Linked DNA regions of Homo sapiens: region 1 is linked to region 2. The links come from fine-mapping of genetic effects on gene expression. Tissue or cell type: testis. Region 2 holds a variant in brackets; the other region holds the start of a gene. All regions are shown on one strand. Distances are between the middles of the regions.

Evidence for each region. PIP is the estimated chance that this variant, and not a neighbour inherited with it, causes the effect.
Region 1: LINC00466 starts here. The variant in region 2 is fine-mapped to the expression of LINC00466 in testis (GTEx, PIP above 0.99).

Annotation. Positions count from the first base shown.
Region 1 is chr1:63,314,699-63,319,998 of GRCh38, forward strand. It overlaps LINC00466 (long intergenic non-protein coding RNA 466), which reads right to left and starts at 2,559. Exons shown (of 12, transcript NR_038252.3): 1 at 2,360-2,559; 2 at 1,251-1,389. RefSeq lists a silencer at 2,705-2,884.
Region 2 is chr1:63,161,670-63,167,394 of GRCh38, forward strand. LINC00466 (long intergenic non-protein coding RNA 466) reads right to left here. Exons shown (of 12, transcript NR_038252.3): 8 at 2,575-2,686; 9 at 878-1,013. Among named protein-coding and RNA genes, the nearest start is that of LINC01739, 150 kb to the left of the region's middle. The variant T/C (reference allele first, on the strand shown) is at 2,303.

The DNA of each region.
Region 1 (5,300 bases), 150 kb after region 2:
AGAGTTAGTTATGTTTCTTTTGCGCTCCTGTAACATTCTATCATATATTTATAACTCATCACACTACATTTTAGCTATGGACTTCCCTGAATAAGTCCCCCATTAGAGTGAGAATGTGTCTTACTGATCGGGTTATTCAAGCAATATTTATTGAGCCACACCTCCACCCCTACACCACTAGTACTTGGCTGGAGGCTAGGGATACAACAGTGAACAGATAAAAATTCCTGCCCTTCTGGAATTAACATTCTAAAGGTGGAATCTATCTTCTTACTCACCTTTGTGGTTCCAGTGTCTGGCCCTTGATGAATACGATAAGGTTAGAAAAACAGCTGGGTCTAACAACTAGCCTTTTGAATATTTTCTTTTCAAAGGATCTTTTCCTTTATCTACGTTCCCTTTTAAATTTCTTCCATGTGTTTGTTAGTCAAATACTTCCATGTAGTCTAAATGTACTATACCTAGACAAAATGTCTAAGCAAATTTCAATTTTTACATTTCCCTTCTCTCTTCTTCCATCCCTTTCTGTTTCCTTATCATACATCTATTGTCCATTTCCCTTGAGACCAAGTACTTTCTGGCTGTCCAGAAGTACCATTAGGCATCCAACTTAGCACTTTCTTTTCCCAAAGTATCCCGGGTTCTAACTTACTTCTCCCCAATCTCCCCTGAAAACCCCTAAAGTCAGAGGTAGCTGGTCAGTAGCATCTTCCGTATTGAAGGCTTCACACTTTCTCTATCCCTACCCAGTGAGAAAGGCCCTCCTCTGCGCTGTTTCCCCTTGCCATGGCACCTATCAACCTGCATGACAAACACTGATTCTCTTGCCTGGTTCTTCCTTAAGGAACCTTGGGTTTAATTCTTCTTTTCATTCCTGGTACTTTCCAGGTCTACAACAGTTCAATAAATTACTAATAAGGAATAAATGAGTAAATAAATATATATTGTATACTTATATATCCTCTCCCCCTGAATTCAGCTGTGGGTATGACTTAAATCCAAGAAATTTTGGATTAAAATGAGAGTTACCAAAAAAGGCAGCTTTGACCCAAGGAAAACTTGTTTCTTTAAAAATGTTAGAAGAATTTAAATTTTTAAAATGTGTTTTGGCCTGGCAGGATGGTTCACACCTTTAATCCCAGCACTTTGAGAGGCTGAGGTGGGAGGATCGTTTGAGGCCAAGAGCTTGAGACTAGCCTGGGCAACAGAGCGAGATCCCATCTCTACAAAAAATAAAAATAAAAAATTACCTGGGTGTGGTGGTGTGCATCTGTACTCCCAGCTACTCGAGAGGCTAAGGCAGGAGGATCACTTGAGCCCAGGAGGTCGAGGGCTGCAGCCATCTACAATTGCACCACTGTACTCCAGCCTGAGACACAGAGTGAGACCCTGTCTCAAAGAAAAACAAAAAAATGTGTTTCGATATCCGCGATCCATGTCACATCTGTTAGTGTACCTTTAGTACATGACTTCTGCATTGTTTGCTAACTGACATTCTGTGTGAATAAAGCGTGTATCACAATGGTGTTTCCGTATGTTATCCAAGTGGGTCCTTTCCCCAGGATGTGAGTGAGCCTTTGGCATGGTCTTTTTAAGATTTTGCCAAGGGAAGACTGGGCTGGAACTAAGGAGCTAACATACCATTGAAATCAAATATCCCGTTGGGTGCACTGGAGGGTAGAGAAGAGGGGATTCCTGCACTCACGCTAAATGATAAACTTTTCCAAGGGCAGGGTCGTGAGAGGTCTTCCAGGTCACCTAGTGTTCTGAGTCATGCAGAAGTAGGAAATGGACACAATACTCCCCGCAGAGAATCCTTCCCACAGGACTGATCCTGTCCCTTCCTCCCCTCCCCCGCCCCACACAAGGCGGAATCCCCACGCAGTGCACTGCAGGCGCGGTGGCCACTGCCCCTAGAACCAGATCTCTCCCCCAGTCCCGTCCTCTCCAAGCTCCAGATATGTCAAGGATTCTTAAGCAGGGGTTTTCCAATCTGTCCCTTGAGGAACTACCCCTGAGGCAAGGCGGGCAGGCCCAAGCTGCGATGTGGAGAATTCGATGTCCGAGCGACCTCCTCGGAGGAGTGGGTCGAGTTAAATATAACCGCGCGAATGGAATGGCGCTAAAAATAAGGCAGCAGCTGGCCTGTCCACAGCCCTGTCCCGGGAGGGGCGGGGGCCCCAGTGGTCTTGGGCAGGAAGGCCGCGTCCGGCCCAGGGGCGAGAAGGCTGCGGCGTCCGCAGCCAGGGCTGGAAGGCCTGGGAGGCCGCGCTCTGTGGGCCCCGGGGCCTCCATTCGGGCTGGGTCGCGGGCCTGGACGGGGACTGTCCAGAGGCATCCGAAAGCCAGGCCAACTTGCCTGGACGTAACAAGACGGAAGGGCTGGGCGCTGAGGTCCTGCCAGCCCGGCCGCCAGAGGGAGCTGAGCGCCAGAGGAGGACAAGCCGAACCCTTCAGGAGGCCGGGCGTCTCCGGAGACCGAAGCGCCGGAGGACCCGAGGAGGTCTGCCCCGCGCGCTGCTCTGGAGACTCCCGGGGCGGGTGGCGCTCGGCCTTTCCGCTCCCTTCCTTCCCACAAGTCCCTTCCCGCGCGCGCCCCACGGCCCTGCCCGCCCTCCCGCGTCAGCGCCCCAACCGTCAAGCCAGCAATTGAAACGTTTCCAAAACGGTCTATTTATTTGCTCCCAATAAATCGATCGGCGGTGATTAAAGAATCGATGTGGCCTGGGTGGGCGAGTCGCTTGAGGGGAGGGATTGGGGGCTTTCGCCCGGCGCCTGCAGGGAGGCCGAGGGCGGGCGCGGGCCTGAGGGAGGCGTGTCCCGCCCGGGCCACACCCGAGGACCCGACACCTGGGCTGGCAGGCCCCGGCAGGCAGCGTTCCCTCCGGCGGAGAGGGGCGCGCGCCCGCCGCCTGCTTTCCTCGGCCCCTCTCGCCTTTCTCGCGCGCCGGGGAGGCTGTGGCCGCCAGTGGCTGCGGAGCTGCTCAGAGGCTTTTGTTGCTCCTCGGCCGGCTGAATGGGGATTTTGTAAAGCGGGACAGATAAAAATGAGCAGCATCATATTGTTTGACAGAATGATCTCGCATGATGAAGTGTCGGCTCCGAAGGGGGTGAAAATGGTGAATTCCTAAAAACCCAGCCCTGGGCTCCTCCTCGAGCTGCCGGTAGCCTGGAGGGACCCAGCGGACAGCCGGGCCTGGCCGCATCGCTCCAAACGGTGTCAGAAAGACTCCGGCTTTCAATGCCAAGTCATTTTTAAGCCCCGATCCTGTCCAGGACCTTTCTCCTCGTGGATGAAAAGAACAATTTTCGAGAGAAAGGCTCGTTTTTATTAAATCCGACATGCTGCTGATAACTCCATGCTAATGTGAAATAATTAACATAATAGCCATAATTAAAAGCACGCTAACAATGCCATAAATTTATCACACAATTTTACTAGCTTTCTGCCCCTAACTGCTCTCTCATCGTTAATTAAACGTGTTGCCTTTTACAGAATGGATGTTTATATATTTCCAATATAAATAAATTCGAAACCATCCTCTCTCTCTTCCTCTTTCTCTCCTCCTTTCCTTTTGGTCTCTCGCCATTTACAGGCACGCCTTGGCGTGGACCCTGAGTGGCAGACATCTTGAAAATAAATGAAGTTTTGAGATGCAAATCCAAACAAGAACATTAAAATAGCCTCTTTTTTTCCACCCCGAAAAGATCCGGAGAGGTATACAAGGGGGTAGTGGTGGGTAAGAGAGTTGAAAATCCCCCGCTTTGGGAAATGGAAGTAATCTGGGTGGGTTGGGGCCTTGGGTACCACCTCTGCCCTTTCCCACCTTCCTTGGTGGCGGCCATCCAGACAAAGAGGCCGGTAATAGTTTAACAAATCTATGAAGATTTTCAAGAAGCAGCAGACTTTGATTGTTGCGGGCGCGGGGGTGTTGGGGAGAAAGGAGGGGAATTTTTCTAATAGTCCCACCCACGTTTTGCTCCCTCTTGGACAAAGAGTAACTACTCTTGGTGGGGGACGCGCCCTTCACTCCGCGGAACCTGGTCCCAACTCCCCGTATTGTAAGAAAAGTGCACCCGCGCGCGGGCATGATGATTCTATCTCACATCGCGCCAACGACTTATTCAAGCCACTGGCACTGTCTCTGACTTAAAAGAGGAGAAAAGAGGCATATGGGTTCACTTGGGCCTGGTGAGGGGTAGGTGGGCAATTCCCGCCTTCCGCACTCTAACCGTGCCCCTCCTCCAGTGTTGACCACCTAAGAACCCAAAATGAGCTGTAATTAATTTCCCTTTCTCCATCATAAATTTTTCTATCCATTTCTTCCCCCCCATCCCCCCACTGGACGCACACACTAAATCTCCCCTCCCCTGGAGACGTCTCAATTTCCTTCCTATCGATCCGGACTCCATTCTTCTTGCCTCCTGTTGCTAGAACCTAGATCCCCACTCCCCGCACCCCTCATTCCCACCGCGTCCAGGTGGCTTTCCCAGCGGGGTACCATGTACTCTGCCCGCTCCAGAGGAACCGAAGGGGTTTCATTCCATTCTCCTTTGGTTGAAACATTTCAAACATTTGAGCAGGTGAGGCAGCTGGCTGCCATCTTCCTTTTTAAATCTCTCCTGGGAAGTTCGCTTGTTGAGACTCAAAGAGTCACTCAAACTCATAATTGCGTGTGTGTGTCTACTCATTCTCCCTCTATCTCTCCAATAACCCTTTGAGACTCAGAAACTTTTTATCCACATACACCCTTTATCACATTTTCTTCCCCCCACTACATGTGTCTCACTTTCTCTCTGTATCTGTCTCGCTTCTTCCGTCTCTGTCCTACAGCTTGGCGGTAACTGACGACCTGTGAGCTTTTAGCTGCAAACTGCAACTACGCGGCAAACAATTTATTTAGCCCGACATCTAGCCGGTCTCCGGCAGGACCCTGCACCGCGTCGGGATCGGACCCTTCCGCTGGGGCGGCCTCCTGCGTCAAGGCCAGCAGGAACCTTCCTGTCGCCCTCCCCGGCCGCCGCTTCGCCTCCTTCCCGCCCCCGGAGGTTGTGCAGGCGCTATGGTCCGCCTGGAGGGAGAAAGCCGGCGGCCGGTTCCTGAGCCGAGAGCGGCCGCGGAAAAATCCTCTGCCTCCGCTGGAAATCGATATTAGGCCGGCGCGGGCGCGGGACGTCGGGGCCGCAGCCAGTAGGTTGTGCACGTCTCATCATTTAGCTAATCGAGTCGAAAAGTTTCTGTAAGGGCCGGACCCAGCATCAGATGGTAACACTGATTGAACAAGAGATTAGCACAATAG
Region 2 (5,725 bases):
AACCTGCATCTTTCTCAAGCTGCATAGATTTCAGTATCCACACCCATAAAATCAACAGAAAAAAACTGCTTTCAGATTCCCTGGCATCCTGGGGCATGGGTGGGTAACACAGCAAAGCTGAGCAGGAGAAATAGGAGGAAGACAGGGACTATCAGACAGATGGGATTGAAATTGTAGACCATGATTACAAATTAGAAAGCTGAGCCCAAAATGTCACAAATGTTAGAATTAGCAGTCCATAGGAACTGGGTTTAGGACTGACTCTCTTTACTCTGCTCCTTTTTGAACTACCAGAGGTGCTGGGAAAGGGAAGAAGGGTAGGGATGAATCTGGAGAAAACGAGCCTTGGCTATGGCCAACATGAGATCTGATTTCCTACCCTCAGTTAAAGTGGGAAGAAAAGGCTCTACATATGTATACATGTGCCATGTTGGTATACATATGTAACAAACCTGCATGTTGTGCACATGTACCCTAAAACTTAAAGTATAATAATAATAATAATAAAGGCTCAACTATAGGTATTTACCAAGCACCCTGTATGGAAGGACACAAACACAGTTCCCCATCACTGGGTTCACGTGCTATTGGCAAGAGCTGCAAGAAGGACAAAAAACCAAACACCGCATGTTCTCACTCATAGGTGGGAATTGAACAATGAGAACACATGGACACAGGAAGGGGAACATCACACCGGGGCCTGTTGTGGGGTGGGGGGAGGGGGGAGGGATAGCATTAGGAGATATACCTAATGCTAAATGATGAGTTACTGGGTGCAGCACACCAACATGGCACATGTATACATATGTAACTAACCTGCACATTGTGCACATGTACCCTAAAACTTAAAGTATAATAAAATAAAAGAATTACTTACCTTGTCTCACATATTAAGACTGAGGCAATACTTAATGCCTCTACAAAATGGCTTAAGCTCCTCAGATAAAAGAAGGTATAGAAATGAAGAAACATTTAAAACTGATAAAACTCTTCTGTTCAAAGCATGAAGTAGGCTGAAAAAAATGAAAAAAACTGTTATGTTGATTAATCCTTCAATGCACAATGTTATGCCAACAGGATGCAGATGATGCAGATGACATGAATGTTTTTCCTTCGCCTCAAACAGGGAGTCAAGTCGGAGAAGCAAGCATGAAAACAGAAACTAACCTTAAGCCAAAGCACAGGCCCTTAGCAATATTACTATATGCCCACCAGTCACCTGCCTGTGGAAATGAAATCATAACCATTCCCCTTTGCCCCGCTTCCTCTGTCACCCATCACAGACTGTGAGTACTGTCACAGGGGTATGAAACAGCAAATAATGACGCTGATACTTTTCTTACTGCCTCTTAAAGACAACCACTATTCATGGAACAACAGTTTGTAAGCTCAAAGTAATGATGGACAAATTGATTAAGAGATGCTTAATCTAAGGATTAGCATTCAGCCAAATGCTGCTTAACATAGCCAACAAGGATTCAAAAGCGGAAACAGCTGTGTTGTTCAGGAATTTGTTTGTAATAAAAGAGTAATTTTTTGCCAGTAAAATTCGGCATTAGTAAATCCTTTAGCATCATCTCTTTCTTGTTGGAATTCCCAAGCTGGAAACTTCCTGCGATCAATATTCTAAAGACATGGTTCCTGGGTCTGAGAGGGAGGCAACAGCACTATAGACATCAGAGAATTCTGGGCTCCATCCCTTCCTAACAAAGAAGCTGTCTGAATTCTCTTAGCCTTGGACATTCTATCCACAAAATAGGGCTGATAAGCAATACCTTACAGGGGTTGTTGTGAACAATAAATAAGCAATCATACATAAAGTTTCTAGCACTCTACGTAGGAGCTAAGAGGTTTTCAATCAATGTTTGTTCCTTGCCCTCCTTCCCTCATCTTCTAGGACTTCCAATATACTGTTTTAAACCTACATTTTTGGCAAGAAGAGCAAAACTCCGTCTCAAAAAAAAAAAAAAAAAAGCTACATTTGTTAGCCACTAAATTGTTTAAGGTAAATAAATGAAGCATTTGCTTTTTTTCAGAAAAGGAATTTTTTTTCTTTCGTTGTGTTTCACATCATATAAGCACCTTTACCAAAAAGCCTAAGAATGATGATGAGAAAAACAAAAAGCAGTGTGAGTATTTGTGTGGGCTCTTCCTGTAAATTAAAGTCATTCTTTTAGTAAGTTGAGGAGGGGACAAGAAGGAAGATGGAGGAGACAAAAATTAAAAAATTTAGGGATATCTATTATGTGATAGGCACTTAGTAGACATGTTATATAACATTATCTTTTTGTTGTTGTTTTTG[T/C]TGAGACGGAGTCTTGCTCTGTCACCCAGGCTGGAGTGCAGTGGTGTGATCTCAGCGCACTGGAACCTCCGCCTCCCAGGTTCAAGCGATTCTCCCACCTCAGCCTCCCGAATAGCTGGGATTACAGACACCCGCCACCGCACCCAACTAATTTTTGTATTTTTAGTAAAGATGGAGTTTCACCATGTTGGCCAGGCTGATCTCAAACTCCTGACCTCAGGTGATCAGTGCTGGGATTACCAGTATAAGCCACCGTGCCCGGCCAACCTTACCTGTTTAATAAATATGACTGTATCTTGACCCCTCTGTGACATCAAACCTCAGCTCTGCTCCTTGATAGTTGTGTGACTTTGGGCAAGTTACTTGACCTCTCTGTACCTTAGTCTCAACATTTGAAAACAAGGAAAATAAAGTGCATACCTCATAAGATTGTTAAAATTAGATGAGTTAAAACATATGAAACTCTTAGAACAGATCCTGGCACATAGTAAATATTGAATAAACATTAGTTGCTAATAATCATAATTATAGTGACAATAATATTTTAAAGCCCTTAACATCAATGGTGGCACATAGTAGATGCTCAAAAAATACTACCTGTTATTACTTAGACAATAAAAGTAAAAGATGATTTCTTTTACAAAAAAGCATTCTTTTTCATTAAGTTTATTCTCTATAGGAGCTGTCTCTATACCAAGCAGAAATATATGAACATCCACTCTTATTTTATTTTATAGATAATCAAATCAGAAGATAAATTTCTTGTCTCTTTATACAAAATCTCTTTTGGAGCCCATAGTGAGTTGGATAAATGTTTTGATTATCAGGCCATTAGGCAGAATTTCCAAGGATAGCAGTTCCTTAAGTCTCTCTCTTCCCTTATGCCCACTTACCCCCCAAAAATACCCACTCAGTGTCTAAGGGCCTCCAGGGAGGCATCTTCTCCATTTCTCACAGCCCCATCATCTCTGTCTCTTTCCTACCTCTCCAGCTCTTTACCTGTCACTCAGTGCACACTAAAATTCAGCAAAAGCAAACAACATGTGGAGCCCCACCCTCGCTATGCCTTCTCTCAGGTTCACTAACGTTGCTTTGTCTCTCTGTACCTGAATTGATCTGTCCTAGACCACAGGAGGCATTCAGTACAAGTTTACTGACTGAAGGATACTGAACTGCAAAAGAATCTGCATACCAAAGAAACTGTACGCCATTCAGACCTGGGCTCACCGCAAATATTTACTCTTTAATCATTTCTGCTTGTGCCTTCAATTAGAGGAAAATAATGCATGTGTCTTAAACAATTTTCAATATATGAGAGCAGAAATAGTTCCAGATCACCATATAAACAGATACAAAAGCAGCAAATCTCATGACATTGATGTGGAAGGCATAGAATTGTCTAGATACTTAGAATAATATTGAACATGGAGTCTTGATTGAAAATGGACTTTTTCAAACTATTTTATTTAATTAATTAATTTATTTATTTTTGAGATGGAGTCTCGCTCTGTTGCCCAGGCTAGAGTGCAGTGGCACAATCTTGGCTCATTGCGACCTCTGTCTCCTGGGTTCAAGTGATTCTCCTGTCACAGCCTCCTGAGTAGCTAGGATTACAGGCATGCACCACCATGCCTGGCTAAGTTTTGTATTTTTAGTAGAGCTGGGGTTTCGCCATATTGGCCAGGCTGGTCTCGAACTCCTGACCTCAGGTGATCTGCCCAGCTCAGCCTCCCAAAGTGCTGGGATTACAGGCATGAGCCAATGTGCCCAGCCTTTCAAACTATTTTACAAGTAATTCATCTACCAACTGAAGTGCCCACAATCCCAGGTGCTGTGACAAATGCAAAATATATGACAGATCTCTTTGTCCTCAAAGAACTTATGATACAGTTGTGGAAGGAAAAGATACATGGGAGGGCTCAGAATATTTTAATGCTAAACTGATGGTACTGAGAAAGCATCTCTTTAATTCTGAGAAAATGATTAGTTGGAGCTAAAATGAAAAAAGAATATAATAAAAAGTTCGGGTTCTCAAAGTACAAAAATACTGTAAAATTCACTTTAACCAGATTAATAACTTTCCCCCAAAATTTATAATTTTATACATTTTTCATGCAGGCTATAGAATACTTAAGCTGTGCTATACTATATCCTATATTCTTATGAATACTATTAAAAACATACATATTCACATGAGCTACAAAGCTGTAATTCAGCATTTCAACACCTATGACTTTCAAAAAATTCTAGAATTTTAGACCCGATTGTAATCATTTCCAAACTCAAACAGAGTCAAACTCTTCTATTTCTTTTTCCAGAAAGTTAAAAATACTTAATACATTAAAAACATGATGAATTTTTAGTTATTTGGGTTATCTACTTAGTCTGTGGATTATTCGGATTTCTTTCCTTTTTTTTTGTTTTTTGTTTTTTTTCTTTGAGACAGGGTCTCACTCTGTTGCTCAGACTGCAGTGCAGTGGCATGAACTTGGCTCACCGCAAACTGCGCCTCCCGGGTTCAAGCGATTCTCCTGCCTCAGCCTCCCAAATAGCTGGGATTACAGGTGTACACCACGACACCCAGCTAACTTTTGTATTTTTAGTAGAGATGGGGTTTCACCATATTGGCCAGGATGGTCTCAAACTACTGACCTCAAATGATCCACCCATCTCGGCCTCCCAAAGTGCTGGGATTACAGGCGTGAGCCACTGCACCCGGCCCTTCTTTCCTCTTTATAGAGAGCTTGCCTCACTTCTGCCCTTTATTTGTAAAGCACTTAGAAGAGTTCTTGGCAGGTAGTAAGTACTCAGTACCTATTACTACCATCACTACTGCTGCTATGACTATGAATATGACTACTACTACTACTGTGGCGTCTGCTACTTCTTTTACTGTTTCTACTCTTATTACTACTATTACTATTACTGCTGCTGCTACTATTCTATCTTTGTTCACTAGCACTTCCTTTACCAGAGGATTGGCAACATAAATAAAAGAACATGAGCCTTACCCTAAACCTAAGGGTTCTTAACTTGGCATCCAAAGACCCTTGAATATGTGAACTTGAATGGGGCAAGTTTACTTCTTTAGTTTTACTATCTGCTAATGTAATCACTGTAACATGAACAGTATCTATGACTCTGTCACTCTTAGAAATCACAGATATTTTCATCTCACTTTATAATTAATTGTTACAGAAATAGCACTTATGTTCATCAATACTTCTCACCACTAGATCTTGTTATTTAATGCATTAATAATGAAGGATATATATTACTATATCATATCTTTGAGATTTTTATCTTTTGATAGCCATATATAGAATATATAACTGGTTCCCTTCATAGTCTTATGTATTTCATTTTATTCATTTAAAAACATTATTTTGAGAAAGGTTCAGTGGGCTTCACTAGATGGCCGAA